Homo sapiens: one gene and its partners. The protein of the gene in region 3 purifies or fractionates together with the protein of the main gene of each other region. This does not show direct contact. Each region holds a gene or a part of one and is shown on either strand. Other genes may lie near its edges.

Region 1 (7,655 bases), on a different chromosome or scaffold from region 3:
TCTTCTTTTTCTTTTTTGATTCTGAATTGGAAGACTGCATTGCTGCTTCTCCATTGGTTAATACAGTGGATTTCTGGGGAGACTTTGTAACTTTTATATTTCCCACTGCTTCTTGAGACATGCCTCCATTTTGAGTTTCTGATAAGCCCACATTCATGGGCTTTTGTTTTGATTTTTTAACCTTTCTACTTCCCATTGTTTCTTCAGATACATCTCCATTTTGAGTTTCCGATAGGGTCAGATTTGAGGCCCCTGTTTAAATAAACAGAACATATACTGTGACAAAGAAGGAGAAGTTTACTTAGAAACACTGAAATCCCAAATGAGAACTTCCATGGCTTCCTGACACAAATTATTTAGATTTTCTTCTCTTTCATGTAATTAAAACAACTTATAGTTTTATGGTGTTCCCTTATAGGGAAAGTAAGTTATCTTAAAGAAAAAATACTGGAAAAGGGAAAGCTATATTGATTTCTTAACTGCAAAAGACCGTACATCTGACTTTAAGGAGTCTAGGACAGGAAAACTTCAATGAGGTCAAATATTTAAACAGATGAGGTCAGATAATGGCAGTTACAGAATAAACATAAGTATTTGATAAACATATGATTAACTGATATATTGAAAAAGACATTTACAACTCATTCACACAAGTACTATTTTTCATACCACTTCAAAACATTCAACCCCAACTCTTCTAGACTGCAGTGAGTTGAAAATTCAGTTGATAAGACCACTTATTTGCTCCAATATTTATCATATGCAAATACAGTAATGCGTGCACAATGACATTTCTGTGAATTAAGGACAACATATACAGTGGCTCCATAAGATTATAACGGAGCTAAAAAATTCCTATCACCTAGTGCCATCAGTAACTGCAATGTCGTAGTGCAACATATTACTCATGTTTGTAGTGATGCTAGTATAAACAAATCTACTGTAATGCCAGTCGTATAAAGTACAGCACACATAATTATGTACAATACATAATACGTGATAATAAACTATGTTACTTGTTTATGTGTTTACTATACTTTTGATCATCATTTTAGAGTTTACTCCTTTTACTTATTAAAAAAAAATGAGTCGACTGTAAAAGAGCCTCAGGGAGAGAGGTATTTTAGAAGGCACTGTTATCATAGGAGATGACAGCTCCATGCCTATTGTTGCCCCTGAAGATCTTCCAGTGGGACAAGATGTGGAAGCGGAAGACAGTGAAACTGAATGTGTCTGTGTCTTTACATTTTTAACAAAAAGCTTAAAAAGAAAAAAAAATAAAATAAAAATCACATAGAATAAGGACAAAAGGAAACTTTTTGTACAGCTGTATGTACAATGTGCTTGTGTTGTAAGCTAAGTGTTATTAAAGTCAAAAGGTTAAAATTTAACAAGTTTATAATGTAAAAGTTACAGCAGGCTAAGGTTAATTTAAGAATAAAAGTATTAAAAAACTCAACAGTGTAGCCCAAGTGTACAGTGTTTATAAAGTCTATAGTGTACAGTAATGTTCTAGGCCTTCACATTCACTCACCGCTCACTGACTCGCTCAGGGTAACTTCCAGTCCTGCAAACTCCATTCATGGTAAGTACTGTATACAGAGGTACCATTTTCTAAATCTCTCATGTCATAGTCTTTTTACTGTACCTTTTCTATGTTTAGATATATTTAGCCATACATACACTTACCATTGTGTTACAATTCTCTGAGTATAGTACAGTAACATGCTGTACAGGATGACAGCTTACGAGCAACAGGCTATATCATGTAGCCTGGGTGTGTAGTAGATTTAGGTTTGTGTAACTAGATAAAGTTCGCAAAACGACAAAAGCCCCTAATGACACATTTCTCACAATGTATCCCCCCTCCTGTTATGCGATGCATGACTGTACCTGAGAATGTCCTTACCAAAGGTTCCCTGTTTGTTTACTGAAAAAGATAAAACACCATCTTTTGTTCAAATTTACTTACATATGCGCTGAAAAGTAGTAATGCTGTAGTATTATTCTATAGGAATTAGAAATACAAGAGTATTTCAAAACATATTCCTAAAATTCACAAACCTATTGCCTCCTGCAGAATTTTTTTTCAATTAATGTCTGTTGAAAACCAACTGGGGCAAGGCACTGTGCCTCCAAACTTTCCCTCGGGGAGTTTGTATCTTAACCTGGACAACAGGTTAACACAATTACTTCAAGATCTGTGGCCCCACTGTCAGGACACTGGGACTGCAAATGAGGTAGGTAAGAAAGGTGACATTCAGATAAAATCCTTTTCATTTAGGTCACTGTGCGGGACACAAATACGTAGAAGCTCTGGTGAGAAAGTGCTACGAGAACGTGTGGAAGTGGGTAGAGGAAGGCAATAGTATCAAAGAAGCTCTGTGGAAACAGCCAGACGGGCTTTTGGGGAAAGAAATACGGGAATTAAATAGATGTGAAAAGTGGGTGGAAATGAGACGTTTCATGCAGCATAACCGGAAATGAGGGATGAGGTGAGGTGCGACTTGCAGGTGGTGAGGGAACCAAAAGCTAAGGTGGAAATGCAAAAGGCAGGGTTAGTCGTAAGCCTAGAAGTGAACGGGGAGTCCTCCCGCTCTAACGTTGTAAGAAGACACTGATTGCTCAGAAAGGTCAGGAGCAGCGCTGGAGCCACGCGACGAGTGGGCAGCAGCGCGGGTCCCGAGTGGAAGCTGCCTTTTCACTCTCCCCAATCACACACGCTGCAGGGGAAGCTGCCTCCGTCACACAGAGCAGCTGGGCCCCCGGCCGCCCGAACGCGCCAGGGCTCGCGCGTGGGTCTTCTGAGCCACCGCGAGTCAACGCATCTCACCCTGAAACTTTAGGTTCCGCTGCCGCAATTTGAGGTTCCGCTTCTCGATCTTCTTACGCAGGAGTTTCATCGGCAGGTGTGACATTCTGCCCAACAAGTGCCTAGAATAAGGCGCCACACAGTACAGCTACTCAGTTCTCAGGCTGACGTTACTTCCCTTCCGGCCGCACGTGCGCAGCTCGGCCAACAGGAAACGCGTCACAGGAACGCTGGCACCCGGCGGAACGAAAATGCTCCAGAGCGGAAATGCTTCCAGACGCGCGCACCGTGATATCTTTGGCGACCAAAATCTTTGCAGCGCCCCCTGGAGAAGTGGAAGCGAGACGCTGCACTGGCTTCACACTGTGCTAAAGCTAACTTGAGCTCCCCCTAGAGGAAGACTGAAGAAAGAACGTGGAGGGGAAGGAGGCCTTAGGGAGTCCGCATTTTTATGTTCCTATCCTCTGTGGGTGCAGAACTAGAGTTGGCCCTCCCTGTACCTGAATTCCCTGTCTGTGGATTCAACCAACTCCCCCATTGAAAACATTAAAAAAAAAACAATTAAAAATAATACAGTGTGATAACTACTTTCATAGCATTTAGGTTGTATAAGGTATTATAAGTCATTTAGAAATGATTTAAAGTATACAGGATGTTGTGTGTAAAATAAATGCAAATATTACACTATTGTATATAAGGGTTTTGAGTATCCTAAGATATTGGTACCCATAGAGGGTCCTGGACTCAATCCCTTGTGGATACTGAGGGACAACTGTATTTGGGAAACTGAATAGAACTAAATTATATATATGCATTTCCAAACTTGTTTGGCCACTCTCCTCAGAAATACAATTTCTGTGTCACTTGGTACACATACACACATAAATATAACATTTCTCAAAATAATATTCTTGCTTTTCACTCTTTTTCCTTCAATTCCATTCATTCCATCCTAAATTATTCTTTTTAGCTTACTAAAAATACTGATTCCTATGAATTTAAATTAACTTTACTACATTAATAATAGGTTGACTGCAGTTTGAAAAAGAGGTTTATATATTCCTTAAGTATACCCAAGGACCCTTCAGCAGTCCAGGACAGAAATTGCAATGTGGCTAGCTAATAGTCATCTCTTTTTTGGGATGGGGAGGAAGACAGGGGTATGCATATAGTATTTAATTTTTAAAAAAATTGTTATCAACATTAAAATACTTGGAGATTTCCATAAAAATTCATATTTGTCTTTAAAAATTGGCCCAATGCCCTCAAATTCCCCTTAACAGTAATCAATTTGAGCTGAACAACTGGAAGAGTCCATGAAACCTGGATTAATTTGTTTACTTGGAGGGGCAGAACATGAGACCCTGGAGATTAGACCTGATCATAGTGAGGAACAGAGAGGGAGAAAACTTGGGAGGGAGTTTAAACAGAATGTGAAGGAATTGACTTCGAAATCACATTGGATTGGACTGGAAAACTAAGACAAACAAATAATAATGTGCTTAGATTAATTTGTTAATGATCAGGCAGGCTGAAGAATGATTCAGAAATGTAAGAGCGCACACACACACGCAAACATTTATCTCAGTGTAAATATATATGCCAGTTTAAATTTATGCATATATCAGTATATATATGCATATACACATATGTATCTATTTCTATAGCTCTATGTACATACATATATATTTACCTGATTACATGTGTGAGTTTTGGGTCTGTGACTTTGAAATAGATACAACTGAAGTATATATAGAAAGTGCTCAAAATTTGTTATTTCTTTTATGTTGTAACTTAAATTTGTGGGGCTATGTTTTGGTAGTAGTAATGGAAAGGTACTCCCTTTTTTCTAGAGTGTGACTTTTTCTAGCTAGTAGTGAAGATTGGCAGTCATTTCCTCAAAACCAAAAAAACCCACATTTACGAGGTGTTTAAGACATTTAGATCAGAGAAGCCGATCCTTTCAGGTGCATGGAAATGCTTAACGTTAGGGATTGATAACCTTTTAAGAAACATAGATAAAGCTACTGATGCCAATTCTTCTGGATTTTTAGAAGAAGAATGAGAAATTATAACTTCAAATCAACTCTCAAAATTAGGGTTGAGAGTTATTTTTAACAGAGTGAATTTCCAAGGCCACATCATCAGTTACTCTAGCAAAGAAAACAATGTCATTGGGTTAGCTACTCAAAAATTACCTGTGAGGATGAGGTAACAATCACGTGCTTCTGAAAAGCCTGTTGTTCTTCACAGCTGGAGCCTATCCCAGTATCTATTCAGAATGCGTTTCAGTCTTTAAAACTTCTTGCTTGGGCTCTCCATCACAGAGGTCTCTCTCTTCAGAATATGGTCATTCGCCATAAAACAATCGCATAATATAGTCATTATGCAACTATTTTTTGAGCATTTTTGTGCTAAGAGTGTGTGGTAGGCATGTGCCAAATCCTGGGTATAAAATGGTGGACAAGATAGACCTGGCTCGCCTAGGTGGAGCTTACAGAGCTTACAAGGAAGACAGAAAATTAAACGATTATGGTAAACTATGATGAATGCAGTGAAAAGGAAGCACATCACAGGAGCAACATCCTAGCCTTGGGAAGGGGTCTGGGGATGGAGTCTGTCATTCAATATTCATTATGCATAGGGACTGAGCCAGCAGCAGGCAGAAGCAGGAAGGGAGTTGCTGTCTTTTTTTTGTTGGTTTGTTTGTGTGTTTTGAGACAGAGTTTTGCTCTTGTTGCCCAGGCTGGAGTTCAATGGCGCGAACTTGGCTTACCGCAACCTCCGCCTCTGGGTTCAAGTGATTCTCCTGCCTCAGCCTCCCAAGTAGCTGGGATTACAAGCATGCACCACTATACCCAGATAATTTTGCATTTTTAGTAGAGACAGGGTTTCTCCATGTTATTCACGCTGGTCTCGAACTCCTGACCTCAGGTGATCCATCCGCCTCAGCCTCCTAAAGTGCTGAGATTACAGGCATGAGCCACCGCACCTGGCCAGGAGTTTCTGTCTTTTACCTCCTGACTAAAAATAATTAAGTTTAACATAGAACAGGTCTTATTCATGCTGTTTTGTTTTTCAGTTTTCACTTGAGATCCTTAAACCTGAGACAAGTGTTTGTAAAATAAAACGCAGATTTGTGTAGTTTGTCATTCAAATTAAAAACGTCCCACTTCACTGGGAAAAGAAATCAATCTATTTCACCAACATCATAGAATTGTGAGCCAGAAATAACTGACTCATCCTCTCGGATCACTGCATTAGGACTCTTGAAGTGATTTTCTAGGAACTTTCAAATGCTATTTTCTATAAGGTTAACCACTCTGTTGTGTATTGGAACTTAAAAAGTGCTATGTTATTGTAAATAAGCATGATGTTGCCTCCTTCACATTACCTGACTTTCCTGGACCAGCATCTGGTTCTGTGTATTTCTACATTGTAGAAAGCAGATGGCTGGTACTTAAGAAAGGTTTTCTTCAGTGAACTGATGGACATAAGAGTGAGAGATTATTTTAAAGAGCATCACCACAATTCATGACAAGTCATTATTGCAGTGGTCCTAGGAGCTGGAGAGGATACAGAAACATATAACAGAAACTTTTCTGTCAAGAAGTTTATTCATTTATTAATTTAAAAAAATACCATCTATCCATTCCAGGTACTGTTTTAGGCCTCAGGGATCAGCAGTAAACAAGACAGGAAAAGTCCTCATTTCCAGGGAGATTACAGCCTGGATAAGAGACGACAGGTATAAGTAAACCTTGTGATTGAACAAGATACCTTTGCATGAAGCTAAATGCTGGGAAGACATTACAACCAGACAATGCAATATAATAAAGAGGGATGGGTGGGAGGGCAGGACAGCATGCTATTCAGGTGGGAGGTATTTTTTGAGGAGGCAAAGATCTAAGGTCAGAGAAAAGGCTGTCAAAGACAAGTCTTAATATGCTATTAAGTAACAATTCAAGGGATCAAGAGCAGATTTGTAGTCAGGAGCATAAGAGGAGATTTGCAGGGGGAAAGAGTCTAGGGGCTGGGTCAGGCTTGAGTGAATAAGGGGATAGTGACAATGTTAAAATGAACTGCATTTGACTTCCTTCCCTTCGAGTCATAGTCTGACCACTGATGATTGAATCACAGACTGAGTCTTGCTTGTACAGTATGTTGCGGAAATAAGAGGATGGAAATGAATTTATTTTTAATACACTTCTTATGTGGAATAATTTTAGACTTGCAAAAAAGTTGCAAAAACAGTGCCCTTTACCCAGTTTTCCCTAACGTTAACAACTTATGTAGCCGTGATACATTTATCAAAATAAAGACATTAACGTTAGTGAATCACTATTAACTAAATTAGACTTTATTCAGATTTCACTAGTTTTTCCACTAATGTCCTTTTTCTTTTTTTTCTCTTCTTCTTTTTCTTTATTTCTCCTAAAAAAAAAGGGATACACATGCAGAACGTGCAGGTTTGTAACATAGGTATATGTGTGCCATGGTGGTTTGCTGTACCTATTGACCCATCCTCTAAGTTCCCTCCCTTCACCCTCAACCCCCCAACAGACCCTGGTGTGTGTTGTACCCCTCTCTGTATCCATGAGTTCTCAATGTTCAACTCCCACTTATGAATGAGAACATGTGATGTTCAGTTTTCTGTTCCTGTGTTAGTTTGCTGAGGATGATAGCTTCCAGCTTGATCTGTGTCCCTGCAAAGGACATGACCTCATTCCTTTTTATGGCTACATAATATTCCATGGTGTATATGTTCCACATTTTCTTTATTCAGTCTATTATTGATGGGTATTTGGGTTGGTTCCATGACTTTGCTATTGTAAATAGTGCT
Region 2 (7,022 bases), on a different chromosome or scaffold from region 3:
TTTGGCCTTCTCTCAGTTTAATACCAGGTCTTCGGCCTTCTCTCACTTTCATACCAGGTCTTTGGCCTTCCCTCAGTTTAATACCAGGTCTTCGGCCTTCCCTCAGTTTAATACCAGGTCTTCGGCCTTCCCTCACTTTCATACCAGGTCTTTGGCCTTCTCTCACTTTAATACCAGGTCTTAGGCCTTCTCTTACTTTAATACTAGGTCTTAGGCCTTCTCTTACTAGTGCTTTTTTCTTTCAAGACAGAGTCCCACTCACTCTGTCACCCAGGATGGAGGCAGTGGCATGATCTCAGCTTACTCTAACTTCCGCCTCCCAGGCTCAAGCAATTCACATGAGGTTTCACCATGTTGGCCGGGCTGGTCTCGAACTCCTCAAGTGATCCGCCCACCTTGGCCTCCCAAAGTGCTGGGATTACAGGTTTGGCTCACCGCATCCAGTCTTTTCTCACATTCTTGACTGTGACAAGCAGATTAACTGATAAAAACAGAAACTTCTGCACAAAATAATAAAAAGAAAAACTCACATAAATGAAAAGACAAAACCAAGCAAAGCTGGGAAAAAAATGAATCTAAATGAGCACAGAAAGGAAAAAACAGCTCTGAGCGCACGGACCCCACAGATCCACTAGACACCAGCGATAAAGAGAAGGCCCTGCAACCAGTCCTCGCTCCGGTGAGCCCGCGGCCCGCGCTGCCGTGTGCTGCTGGAGAGGGGACAGGAAGCGAGGCACAGGCCGGCAGGAGGCAGCTTCCTCCCTGGCTGGTCAGTGGAGGGCTGGGAGCACCCGTGTCAGGGGTGCTGCAGGGCAGGGAGCACACAGCCCAGGGCGCCCCTCCAGTGGGATGGCTCGCAGACACAGTCAACAGCTGGAAGGGCAGGGGCTGCAGAAAGTCCCAGGGAGTAGGAACCAGGCCAGGAGACAGAACTCGTGGGTCATCAGGTGGCACAGAACGCAATTAAGAGGCAGGACTGCCAGGCCCAAGGCAGGGAGGCTGGAGATGGGGTGGGCCCTGGGGTGAGGCTGGCCCACCAAGCTCGTGCCAGAGCAGGTGGACCCAGAAAGAGGGGTCACTGTAGCAGGGACGCAAAGGGTGGGGAAGGGATGCCTGCCCTCAAACCACACAAACACAAAAATAAATCAAACCCACTGGCCCCAAGGAGGCTACTAGCAACAGCTGTGGGCCCTGCCGTGGCCCACAGATACCCCAGGGAAGGAAGGGGGAGGTACAGCACCCACCCCATCTTCTTGGGCCCTGTCCCTGTCCTCATCCCTATCCTCTGACCACCCCCCAGACACAGAGTACCCTTCTTCACCTTCACTCCTGAGCTCCTCATGCCAACAGTCAGGGGAGGAGCTGCAAAGGGCACAGCCAGACCCTGCTCCTTGAGTGCACCTCACAAAACACCAGGACTCCTGACCCCAGAAACACAGACAGCAAATGCTCGTTGTTGAAAGGCACTATGGTGGCCAGGTGCGGTGGCTCACGCCTGTAATCCCAGCACTTTGGGAGGCCAAGGCAGGTGGATTACCTGAGGTCAGGAGTTCAAGACCAGCCTGGCCAACATGGTGACACTCCCTCTCTACTAAAAATACAAAAAAAAAAAAAATTACCCGAGCGTGGTGGCTGGCATCTGTAATCCCAGCTACTCAGGAGGTTGAGGCACGAGAATCGCTTGAACCCAGGAGGCAGAAGTTGCAGTGAGCCGAGATTGTGCCACTGCACTCCAGCCTGGGCGATAAGAGCAAAAAAACTCCATCTCAAAAAAAAAAAAAAAAAAAAAAAAGAAAGGCTCCATGGTTTGGGGCAGTTTGTTGTGGTGCCAGATAACAAAACAAACAAACAGAGAGAAAACAGCAAAGGGCTCCTGGCCCAGGGAGCTCAGACCAAAATGACAAGAACCAGCTAGCTGTCCTGCCCTTGGGCAACAGCCATGAGGGTTTCCAGCCAGCTAAGTGCATGGATGATGCCGCCACAGGGAAGAGACAGAAGGGCTTCCGGGACTGGGACCACGGGCACGCACCGCCATGCCTGGCTCATTTTTTAAATTTTCTGTAAAAATGGGGTCTCATTATATGGCACAGGCTGGTCTTGAACTCCTGGGCTCAAGAGATCCACCTGCCTTGGCCTCCCAAAGTGCTGGGATTACAGGTGTGAGCCACTGGGCCCAGCCTGTGACTCATTCTTTTTATTTTTATTTTTTCAGTTAAGCCCAGCTGTGCGAGCCTCATTCTTAATGAAAGAAAAACATCACTAAACAAGAGGAAAAGATGAAGCAGCAACACCATGAGGGAGGCTGGTGGTGGGAAAGCAGCTGAGGGGCGGCTGCAGTAGTGCATGGCATCACCGCCTAGCGGAGGGACGCTCCAAGCACCTTCACAATTAAATGCATTGATGGCCAGGTGCGGCGGCTCACGCCTGTCATCCCAGCACTTCAGGAGGCCAAGACAGGTGGATTACCTGAGGTCAGGAGTTCGAGACCAGCTCAGCCAACATGGTGAAACCCGTCTCTCCTAAAAATACAGACATTAGCCGGGCGTGATGACGGGCGCCTGTAATCCCGGCTACTCAGGAGGCTGAGGCGGGAGAATCACTTGAACCCAGGAGGTGGAGGTTGCAGTGAGCCGAGATTGCACCACCGTACTCCAGCCTGGGCGACAGAGCGAGACTCTGTCTCAAAAAACAAAACAAAACAAAACAAAACAAAACTAGCCAGGCATGGTGGCGGGGACCCTGTAGTCCCAGCTACCAGGGAGGCTGAGGTAGGAGGATCCCTTGAGCCCAGGAAGTTGAGATTTTGGTGAGCCAACATCGCACCACTGCCCTCCAGCCTGAGTGACAGAGTGAGACCCTGTCTCAAACAAAAAAAAGCATTTATCCTTTGACCTAGAAATTCTCTTGGAATTTTCCCCAAGAATGGTGTGCACATGTGAGAAACAGCATGTTACTGTCAGGTCAACTGTAAGAGCAAAAGCCTGCAACTGCCCACCCACTGGAGCTGTTGAGGCCGAGCTGCCAGGCACTCTACGGGCACCAAGCACTGTACAAACCAGAGCCATGGCCTCCCTGACAGAACCATCCTGAGACAGCGCACGGCTGCCCCTTCTCTTAAGAAACCACCATTCAAAAACTCTGTGCGAGTTTGGATATGTCTAGAACATCCTGGAAAGAGACTTCAGCACTGGAAACAGTAGTTGCCTGGATGCAGCAACAGGAGCCAGGAGGGAAGGGTAGGAGACTCGTTCCCTGGCACACCCCTCAGGAGCACCTGAGCATCCAAAGGTGCCCTAGAACACCACGTGCAGCTGCTCACTGAATGCCACGTAATTCTACACAGTCCTTAGAAAGGAGGCAGGGTCGTGTGCATGTCAATGCTAAAGGCCTGAGGGCAGAAAGCCAGAGGGAAGCCTGTGGCCCGGCCCTGCAGCCAGAAGCACGCCCACCCTGGGTCCACCCAGGCAGGTCCGGAGCCCTTGGCAGGTCGCCAGGTCTCCACAGGGGCCGCCAGCAGCTGACCCCCAGCAGTCACCGGGCTCCCCGCTACAAGGGCCTCCCACTGTGGGGCTCTCCGCAGGACGCCCCGGGCCGGTCTGGGTTGGTTTGGGGCACACACTTGGAATCAGATTTATGGAGGAGGCTCTCTGAAGGTGACCCATCAGCCACATCGCTGCCAGGATGGCAGAGATGAACAAAAGCCGCAGCTCCCTCCCATGCCAGTCACACAGCCCCTTCTTCACAGCACCATCGGGGCCGGGTATACCCACCAAGGGCTAGGCGGCCTGGGGAGTGAGGCCCTCGCCCTGCCTGACTTCGTGTGTCCCTGAGGTGTCCGTGACATGACACATGCATGCTGCCTGATGCCCAGCCCCATCCCGCCACTGTTCCAGTCTGATGTGATGCTGTGGCTGGGATGTCCTTCAGATGCACGAGGCAGAGGCCACAGGGGCCACGTCTTGCCAACCACTGTGGAGGAAACAGCGACAGGAGGGAGTGGGGGGACAGGCAGAAGCACGTGGCAGAAGAGAAATTAGCAAAAACATCATCTCGTCCTTCAGGGGCTGCCAGGCAGACATTACCCTCACTTACCAAGTAACCCACCGAGGCCCATGAACCATCTGCAAGACCACACGAGTGGCCGTGGCCAGGACCACAGAATCCCAGGTGCGCCCACTGCAGGGCAAGGACACTTAGCAGCAGGAGAAGCTGCTGTGTCACTGTGGTGTGAATTCCCAGAACCAAGGGGCACTGATTCTAGAAGCCGCTCAACGGAAGGGTTCTTGGGTTGAGGACCCACAACCACTGGCAGGGGCATCGGGGGCAGAATCCTCCAGATGGCTGTGGCGGGCGAGGGTGTCTGGCAGAGCCCCTGGTGGCCCGGCCCCGTGGACCCACGATGCGAGTGGGAGGTGGCGGAGATACAGGCGTAAGGAGCCCTGGACTGCCTTCGGGATGACACAGAAACAGGCCTAACCTGAGGCCACTAACTGGGCATGACGGGGCCATCTTGGCGGCACTCTGGGAGGCCTCACGTGGCCACGCTCATGGAAGCCAAGAGAACATGCAGGAGGCAGCACTGGGCTGCCGGCTGAGTTTCCACCTGCAGGGCTGCACAATGGGAAAGGACTCCCACCATTCAAGAGGGGCGCGGAGGGCAGGCAGGAGGGAGTGGCCGCTCAGCAGGCCAAGGTGCCTGGGTGGCTTCTGATGAACAGGGGGGAAAAGGGAGGGGTTCCCACTAAGAAGCTGAAAGCACCCCCACCTCATCAATTCATTCTCCTGACCTGGAAGAATTTAAACCCAGTCATGAGGATCACACTTTAGAACTGAAAACACCCTGACAGGGCCCAAGGTGCCCCTCAGCTAAAGCACAGGACACGCGGGCAGATGCACGGGCGCCATGGCAGGGCAGGGCCTCAGCCCCTCAGCTAAAGCACAGGACACGCGGGCAGGTGCATGGGCGCCACGGCAGGGCAGGGCCTCGGCCCCTCAGCTAAAGCACAGGACACGCGGGCAGGTGCATGGGCGCCACGGCAGGGCAGGGCCTCGGCCCCTCAGCTAAAGCACAGGACACGCGGGCAGGTGCATGGGCGCCACGGCAGGGCAGGGCCTCGGCCTCCCAGCTAAAGCACAGGACACGCGGGCAGATGCACGGGCGCCATGGCAGGGCAGGGCCTCGGCCCCTCAGCTAAAGCACAGGACACGCGGGCAGGTGCATGAGCGCCACAACAGGGCAGGGCCTCAGGCAGGGACTTGGGCAGCCAGCAGCGTGGGGAACTCTGAGGACCGCCCCACCAGCCCGGCCGGCCTTGCCACCTCAGGCCCTGCTGGATGACGGAGCACACAGACCACAGACAGCGGTACTTTGGAAAACACCCTGCATGGGGCAGCCAGTTACGCGGTCACAGAAACCCGAGCAGGGCAATGGGCAGGACAAGCACACACTCAGCAGTGCAGAGGACCTGGTGCTCCAGGGGCCAGGAGACAAGCAGCGAGAAGAGAAGATGGCGCCTCCCTAGACTCCGCAGACACCTCTAGTACCTTTCAAGTACTTGGATATGTTATTATGCGAAAACATTGTTTTGGTTTTTGAGGCAGAGCCTCACTCTGTCACCCAGACTGGAGTGCAGTGGTGAGATCTCGGCTCACTGCAACCTCCGCCTCCCAGGTTCAAGTGATTCTAACGCCTCAGCCTCCCGAGTAGCTGGGATTACAGGCACGCGCCACCACGCCCAGCTAATTTTTATATTTTTAGTAGAGACAGGGTTTCACCATGTTAGCCAGGCTGGTCTTGAACTCCTGAGCTCAGGTGATCCATCCACCTTAGCCTCCCAAAGTGCTGGGATTACAGGCGTGAGCCACCACGCCCGCTGAAAGAATTTAATAAAAAAATCATTAACATGTAAATGTGTAAATCCTTAATTTAAAAAGGGACAGAAGACCCAGAAAGATGTACACCAGACCACTAACTGTGCTCACGGGTTAGGTGTGAGGGCCCTGAGTGGGAGCTTCCACCCTACTGAATGGTGCTGCTACAATATCTACATTATTTTCCAGGATGTTTTATCTCATAATTTTTTTTTGAAACAGGGTCTTGCTTGTCACCCAGGCTGGAGTGCAGTGGCTCTATCATAGCTCACTGTGACCTGGATTCCTGGGCTCAGGAGATCCTCCCACTTTGGCCTCTCGAGCTGCTGGGATTACAGGTATGAGCCACTGTGCCTGGCCCAGTATTGTATCATTTTAAAAACTCAAGAAGGGGTAACGTAGTTGTCCATAATCTTACAAACCACTGCCAACACAGCACATCATTTTTTCTCTGTGTATGTTAGTGGTATAATTAAAGCCTGAATTAAGTGTGATTTTAAATCTTTTCTTCCCAGCAAACAAGCCAACCCAACACAGCTAGCACACAATGAACAAGCCATGGTTCCTTGGCTTCTATCACGGGGACCTCTGCCAAGGCCGTAACTTCCAGAACACCGAAACTACTGGGAGAGTAAATCCTTACAAACGATTTCCAGAATGTTTAGAGTAACAAATGCTGGGCTGGGCGCGGTGGCTCACACCTGTAATCCCAGCACTTTGGGAGGCCAAGGCAGGCAGATCACTTGAGGTCAGGAGTTCGAGACCAGCCTGGCCAACATGGTGAAACCCCGTCACTACTAAACATACAAAAAAAAATTAGCCGAGCCTGGTAGTGGGCACCTGTAATCCCAGCTACTCAGGAGGCTGAGACAGGAGAATTGTTTGAACCCAGGAGGTGGAAGATGCAGTGAGCCAAGATCGCCCCACTGCACTCCAGCCTGGGCAACAGAGCAAGACTCTGTCTTAGAAAAAAAAAAAAAAAATAGGCCGGGCGTGGTGGCTCACCTGAGGTCAGGAAATCGAGACCAGCCTGGCCAACACGGCAAAACCCTGTCTCTACTAAAAGTACAAAAATTAGCCGGGCGTGATGGCATGTACCTGTAATCCCAGCTACTAGAGAGGCTGAGGCAGGAGAATTACTTGAACCCAGG
Region 3 (7,314 bases):
CCACTTATTTTTTTTTTTTTTTTTTTGAGACAGGGTTTTGCTCTGTCACTCAGGCTGGAGTGCAGTGGCACAATCTCAGCTCACTGCAACCTCCGCCTCTCGGGTTCAAGCAATTCTCCTGCCTCAGCCCCCTGATTAGCTAGGATTACAGGCGCATGCCACAGTGCCCGTCTAATTTTTTGTATTTTTAGTAGAGATGGGGTTTCACCATGTTGGCCAGGCTGGTCTTGAACTCCTGACCTCAAGTAATCTGCCCGCCTCAGCCTCCCAAAGTGTTGGGATTACAGATGTGAGCCCAGCTGACCTCACTCTTAAAAAAAAAAAAAAAAAAAAATTCAGGGGAAAAAATGAAAAATAACCGTAAAAAGTAATACAAATTTTTAAAATACATTATGTACACTGTATTAGCTATCAGTAATCCAGGCCAGGCAGGGTGGCTCAGGCCTGTAATCCCAGCACTTTGGAAGGCCGGTGGGTGATCACTTGAGGCCGGGAGTTTGAGACCAGCATGGCCAACATGTCAAAACATCTCTACTAAAAATACAAAAATCAGCCGGTGGCCGGGTGGGGTGGCTGACATCAGTAATCGCAGCACTTTGGGAGGCCGAGGTGGGCAGATCACTTGAGTCCATGAGTTGGACACCAGCCTGGCCAACATGGTGAAACCCGGTCTCTACTAAAAATACAAAAATTAGCAGGGCATGGTGGCACATCCTTGTAATCCCAGCTACTTGGGAGGCTGAGGCAGGAGAATCGCTTGAACCCGGGAGGCGGCGGAGGTTGTGGTAAGCCAAGATCGCATCACTGCACTCCAGCCTGGGTGACAGAGTGAGTCTCTGTCTCAAAAAACAAAACAAAATTAAATTAAGTTAAAAAAAAAATTAGCCAGGTGTGGTGGCGCATGCTTGTAATCCTAGCTACTTGGTTGGCTGAGGCACGAGAATTGCTTGAGCCCAGTAGGCAGAGGTTGCAGTGAGTCGAGATTGTGCCACTGCACTCCACTCTAGGCAAGAGTGAGACTCTTGCCTCAAAATAAATAAATAAATAAATAAAGCTATTAAGCAATCCAGAGAGGATTTAAACTACATAGGCGGAAGGAGTATAGATTATATGCAAATACTACAACCAGTTATTTATTTATTTATTTATTTTTTGAGAGAGTGTCTCGCTCTGTCGCCCAGGCTGGAGTACAGTGGCACGAACTTGGCTCACTGCAACCTCCACCTCCCGAGTTCACGCCATTCTCCTGCCTCGGCCTCCCGAGTAGCTGGGACTACAGGAGCCTGCCACCATGCCCGGCTAATTTTTTATATTTTTAGTAGAGACGGGGTTTCACCGTGTTAGCCAGGATGGTCTCGATCTCCTGACCTCGTGATACGCCCGCCTCGGCCTCCCAAAGTGCAGGGATTACAGGCGTGAGCCACCGCGCCCGGCCTACTACAACCATTTTATATAAGGGACTTCAGCAGTCTGAGATTTAGGCATCTGTGGGAGTCCTGGAACCAACCCCTTAAGGACACTGAGAGACAACTATACCTGGTCTGTCAAACCGTTGGGGGGAGCTCGTCAATACCAAATGTAGTCCAACACATGCGGGATAAAACTCACCAAATAAAAATTCTAATTACTTTCTCTTGGTTCCCCACCATTACCTCCTTCTTTGCCAAAAGTGCCTGCTTTGCCTGGGTGGCTTTGAGGGCTTGATAAGCCTTCCTCTTTTTCAGGAGATTTTCTGGAACCAAAGGGATTTTTCTTTGCCTGATGCAGAAAATTGAGATCAGAGATAACATTTAGAAAAGAACACTTGGCCGGGCTCGGTGGCTCAAGCCTGTAATCCCAGCACTCTGGGAGGCCGAGGTGGGTGGATTACCTGAGGTCAGGAGTTCGAGACCAGCCTGACCAACATGGTGAAACCCCCGTTTCTACTAAAAATAAAAAATCAGCTGGGCGTGGTGGCGCACGCCTGTAATCCCAGCTACTCGGGAGACTGAGGCAGGAGAATCGCTTGAACCCGGGAGGCGGAGGTTGCACCGAGCCGAGATCCCGACACTGCGCTCCAGCCTGGGGGACAGAGCAAGACTCCGTCTCAAAACAAAAACAACAACAAAAAAGAAAACGAACATTCAATGGATTTCCAAACCAATTCAATATCCTGGGCTTTAGGGAACATTACTGTTTTCAAGTATCTGAAGAAAGATTCCCCTGAAACCTGCGGTTTCTGACTCCAGGCCTCATAAATCCATCCCTAATAGTCACTCATCCCCAAAGCCTCGGAAAATAATGAATCCTTTAGCCTCTGGGTTCGTATAAGTTAACAGGGTTTTCACGGCCACAGTTCTTCATAGGCACTAGCAGCGACGAATCTATGGGGTTGGGGCGGGGGCAGGCCTATCTGCAGAGTTAACACTTGTCGGGCTGGGTGAATTCAACTGTGGCACTCCAGCCCGCTGCCTGAAGTCAATCCTCGCCTCTCCAGATAACCCGAACTTGACCGCGGTCCCCTCCCTCCTCCGCCACAGCGCTACTCCTCCTCACCCCCACCCTTTGTAAACTGTGGCCTTTTCTATTCCTAGAGCCCACAGGAATCCGCCACCAAGGCATAAACACCGTGGATGGCACCGGATACTCAAGACCCCACTCCAGATATTCAAAGCCCCAAACACTCACTCTTGCTCCGCCATCTTTCTAGTGGTGCAGCTACTGATCATGCGCAACCCCACCACATGGGGAAGACAGCACACGCTCTGTTTACTTGACCATAGAGACGTCTGTTCTAGCTCACGCTGGAGGACCAGTCAGCGTTCACTTAGCCGCAGTGAGCCCTTGAGGTCCCGCTAACCCCGATTCCTGCCAAAAGTTGCACCGCTTCTTAGGGTTTTTAGAGCCTGTGTTATTTTCAAAACCCAGCCCTTTTCTTGTAAGTTACAGTTTCATCACAAGCGGCCTGGCTGTGGACAGCAAAGTGCTTCCCACAATGCACCTATGGCGTCCGCTCCTAGCTACGGCGCCGCACTTCCGGCGCGGCTGTGCTGCGTCTCTGGGGAGGAAGACAGGCAAACTCCGCGAAACATTTTCGCTCTGTGGAAAAACTTGGAGGCTATGGCTTTGGCTCTCACGTGTAGGTGGAAGTGTTTGTTGAGGACTTAGAGTGGTAAAGCAGGTAGCTGCAATTCCGTCTGCTTGGCCCCGTCGATGCGTCCTTGAACACGTTATTTAACCCCTCTATACTGCGGCTTCATTACCCATAAAATGGGTGTACAGTAATAATAGGTCTACCTAATGGCGTTACGAGGATTACAGGAGATTAGATAAAGCGTTTAGCAGTGTCTGTCAGCACTATGTTTGTTACTATTACTGCTGGACCGAAAACTACAACATGCTTCCTTCCCGTCTAAAACCGTTACACAGGCCGGGCGCGGTGGCTCACGCCTGTAATCCCAGCACTTTGGGAGGGAGGCCGAGACGGGAGGATCACCTGAGGTCAGGAGTTCGAGATCAGCCTGGCCAACACGGCGAAACCCCGTCTTGGGCGGAGGTTACAGTGAGCCGAGATCGCGCCACTGCCCACCAGCCTGGGCGACAGAGCAAGACTCCGTCTCAAAAAAACAAAAAGAAAAGAAAAGAAAAAAAAAGAATAAAAATAAAACCCTTATGCAGCTCTCATCGCCCGGAATTTGCGTTCTTCCCTCCCAGTCTATATAGAATCCTGAAAAACAGTAGGTCGGGCCGGTGGCTTTCACCTGTAATCCCAGCACTTTGGGAGGCCAAGGCAGGTGGATCACTTGAGGTCAGGAGTTGGAGACCAGCATGGCTAAGATGGTGAAACCCCGTCTCTACTAAAAATACAAAAAATTAGCTGGGCGTGGTGGCTCGCGCCTGAAGTCCCAGAAGGCGGAGGCTGCGTGAGCCGAGTTTGTGCCACTTGCACTCCAGCCTGGGCGACAGAGCGAGACAGTCTCAAAAAAAACAAGAAATAAATTTTTTTTAAAATTAAAAATCCTGAAAAACAACACAAGTCTTATCATCTCTGGAAACCTCCAGAGCAGCGCTTCTCAAGCATTAATAGTGAATAGGAGTCACCTGAAGATTTTACTAAAATACAGATTTTTATTCAGGAGGCCGGGTGGGGAGCTGATATTCTGCTTTTTTTTTTTTTTTTTTTTTGAGATGGCGTCTCGCTCTGTCGCCCAGGCTGGAGTGCAGTGGCGCGATCTTGGCTCACTGCAAGCTCCGCCTCCCGGGTTCACGCCATTCTCCTGCCTCAGCCTCCCGAGTAGCTGGGACTACAGGCGCCCGCCACCACGCCTGGCTAATTTTTTGAATTTTTAGTAGAGATTTCACCTTGTTAGCCAGGATGGTCTCGATCTCCTGACCTCGTGATCCGCCCGCCTCGGCCTCCCAAAGTGCTGGGATTACAGGCGTGAGCCACCGCACCTGGCCAATATTCTGCATTTTTAACAGGCTTCAGAGTGACGCTGGTGCTACTGGTCTATGGGCTGACTAGTAAGACTCTAGAGTAGTGTCTGATTTCCCTCAGGACATTATTATATTTTTAATATTTCTTCCACATGATACTAGGGGGGGCAGGAACCATGACTGCTTACTCATCACTGATCCTAAGGATCTAGCACCAATTTCTCGATTTTGGCACTATTGATACTGATACTGGTGGCAGCTAAAGGCCTCGTGTTGCCATGTAACTAGTCCAACCGGAAAGAGTGCCATGGGCACAGGTCACTTTCTGATGAGTAAGTGTCAGGACAACCCAGCATTCAAGGTCACACACTGAAAGAGGGAGGCTCATTCTCTTTCAGCACCTCACCATGTGTCTTTGTAAAGAGGCTAAACACAAGGGTCACCAAAGTGTAAGACATTCACTAAATAGTAAACAAAAAAGCAAAAAGTTAAATGTTTTGTGATTTTTCCTGTCTATGGATAAAAGGTAGAGTCTGTGGTACCAATAATATTAAAAGGAGGAGGAATTTTAGGGTTAACAATACTTCAGCCAGGCGGCGATGGCTCACGCCTGTAATCCCAGCACTTTGGGAGGCCGAGGCAGGCAGATCACTTGAGCTCAGGAGTTCAAGACCATCCTCAGCAACATGGCAAAACCCTGTCTCTACCAAAAATACAAAAATTAGCCGGGCATGGTGGCACATGTCTGTAGTCAGCTACTTGGGAGGCTGAGGCACGAGAATTGCTTGAACCTGGGAGGCGGAGGTTGCAGTGAGCCGAGATTATGCCACTGCACTCCAGCCTGGGCAACAGAGCAAGAATCTGTGTCAAAACAACCCCCAAAAAACCAGTACTCCAAGACTGAATGGGATTGAGGCCAGGATTCAGGAATGGCTTTCTACTGCCAGCAGATGGTGCTAGGAGAATACTTATTCTCAGTGCCAATCCCCTTACTCCACCAGACTGACAAAGGGAAAAAGAAAGGAGCCCCACCTCTTAAACAATTATTCACTAACTGAATATGTGTTTATTGAGCATTGAGCATGTGTCCTAGATTTTTTTTCAAAGTGAGGTTACTGAGGTCAGGTGTGGTGGCTCATGCCTGTAATCCCAGCACTTTGGGAGGCTGAGGCAGGCAGATCGCCCGAGGCCAGAAGTTCAAAACCAGCCTGGCCATCATGGTGAAACCCCATCTCTACTAAAAATACAAAAATTAGCTGGGTGTGGTGGCGCATACCTGTAATCCTAGCTACTTGGGAGGTTGAGGCACGAGAATCGGTGCACTCCAGCCTGGGCGACAGAGTGAGACCTTGTCTCCCCCCACCAAAAAAAAAAAAAAAATTCCAGTCCTCTTGTGAACTTATTTCCTCTTCATCATGTACATTTGGGCAGCTGTTGGGAGGATATCAAATCCAAACGCTTGCCCTCCAATACTTAAACTGAAGGAGTCTTTGGAAGATCTTTTCAATTCTTTTCATCACCCCATTGGGAGTGGGTATGAGATGCTAAATTTCTCTGTGATTTTGAATTTTAAGCAGAGTGATGATGGAACAAAGCACCAGATTTGAGACAAGACTTTTTTTTTTTTCGTTTTTATTTTTATTTTTTTTTTGAGACAAAGTCTTGCTCTGTCGTCCAGGCTGGAGTGCAGTGGTGCAATCTTGGCTCACTGCAACCTCTGCTTCCCAGGTTCAAGCAATTCTCGCGCCTCAGCCTCCCGAGTAGCTAGGATTACAGGCGTGTGCCACCACGCCCGGCTAATTTTTGTATTTTTAGTAGAGATGGGTTTCACCATGTTGGCCAGGCTGCTCTCGAACTCTTGACCTCAAGTGATCTGCCCACCTCGACCTCCCAAAGTGCTGGGATTACAGGTATGAGCCACCGCACCCAGTCAGGGGCAAAACTTTTAACGATTTCCACCTAAGAAAACCTCCTAGAGTTTCTTTGTCTCTGTCCTTCTCAAGCCTCATGGGTTCTTCAATTTTTTAATTCTTATCTTCCTTACAAAATCCCTTTATGTTGGTTAACTAGAATAATTTTCTGTTGTTTACAACCAAATAATCCTGACTGTAACAGTCCCAAACATATGGAATACAGACTAGGGTGTAAAAAAATGGTCCCAGATTGTTTTGGTTTTTTGTGTTTTTTTTTTGAGATGGAGTCTCGCTTTGTCGCCAGGCTGTAGTGCAGTAGCACTATCTCGGCCTACTGCAACCTCTGCCTCCCAGGTTCAAGCAATTCTCCTGACTCAGCCCCCCAAGTAGCTGGGACTACAGGCGCACACCACCATGCCTGCCTAATTTTTGTATTTTTAGTAGAGATGGGGTTTCACCATATTGGCCAGGATGGTCTCAATCTTTTGACCTCGTGATCTGCCTGCCTTGGCCTCCCAAAGTGCTGGGATTACAGGCATGAGCCACCGTGCCCAGTCCCCAGATTGTTTTTCTTTTCTTTTTTCTTTTTTTTTTAGACAGAGTCTCGCTCTGTCGCCCAGGCTGGAGTGCAGTGGCACGATCTCGGCTCACTGCAACCTCCACCTCCTGGGTTCAAGCAATTCTCCTGCCTTAGCCTCCTGAGTAGCTGGGATTACAGGTGCCCGCCACCACGCCTGGGTAATTTTTGTATTTTTAGTAGAGATGGGGTTTCACCATGTTGGCCAGGCTGGTCTCGAAGTCCTGACCTCAGGTGTTCACCTGCCTCGGCCTCCCAAAGTGCTGGGATTACAGGCATGAGCCACCGCGCCCGGCCAGTTATAGGTATATTTGTATGTAACAATTTTGGAAGCATATATGAAAAAGTGCTGACGGTGGTCTTTTTGGGAAATAGTAGTAGAGTCTGGAATCGGAGGAAAACTTCCAT

The links.
Region 1: the proteins of RPL7L1 (region 3) and DDX18 purify together in Homo sapiens (affinity purification with mass spectrometry; 2 studies listed by BioGRID and IntAct, with this or other methods). This does not show direct contact.
Region 2: the proteins of RPL7L1 (region 3) and BOP1 purify together in Homo sapiens (affinity purification with mass spectrometry; 2 studies listed by BioGRID and IntAct, with this or other methods). This does not show direct contact.

What each region holds. Positions count from the first base shown.
Region 1 is NC_000002.12:117,810,041-117,817,695, reverse strand, and holds the start of DDX18 (ATP-dependent RNA helicase DDX18), read right to left. Parts: upstream 3,006-7,655; 5' UTR 2,919-3,005; coding exon 2,834-2,918; intron 253-2,833; coding exon 1-252. UniProt on the Homo sapiens protein: ATP-dependent RNA helicase that plays a role in the regulation of R-loop homeostasis in both endogenous R-loop-prone regions and at sites of DNA damage.
Region 2 is NC_000008.11:144,281,434-144,288,455, forward strand, and holds part of BOP1 (ribosome biogenesis protein BOP1), read right to left. Parts: intron 1-7,022. UniProt on the Homo sapiens protein: Component of the PeBoW complex, which is required for maturation of 28S and 5.8S ribosomal RNAs and formation of the 60S ribosome.
Region 3 is NC_000006.12:42,875,305-42,882,618, reverse strand, and holds the start of RPL7L1 (ribosomal protein uL30-like), read right to left. Parts: upstream 3,004-7,314; 5' UTR 2,709-3,003; coding exon 2,668-2,708; intron 1,759-2,667; coding exon 1,653-1,758; exon of another isoform or gene 1,537-1,652; intron 1-1,536.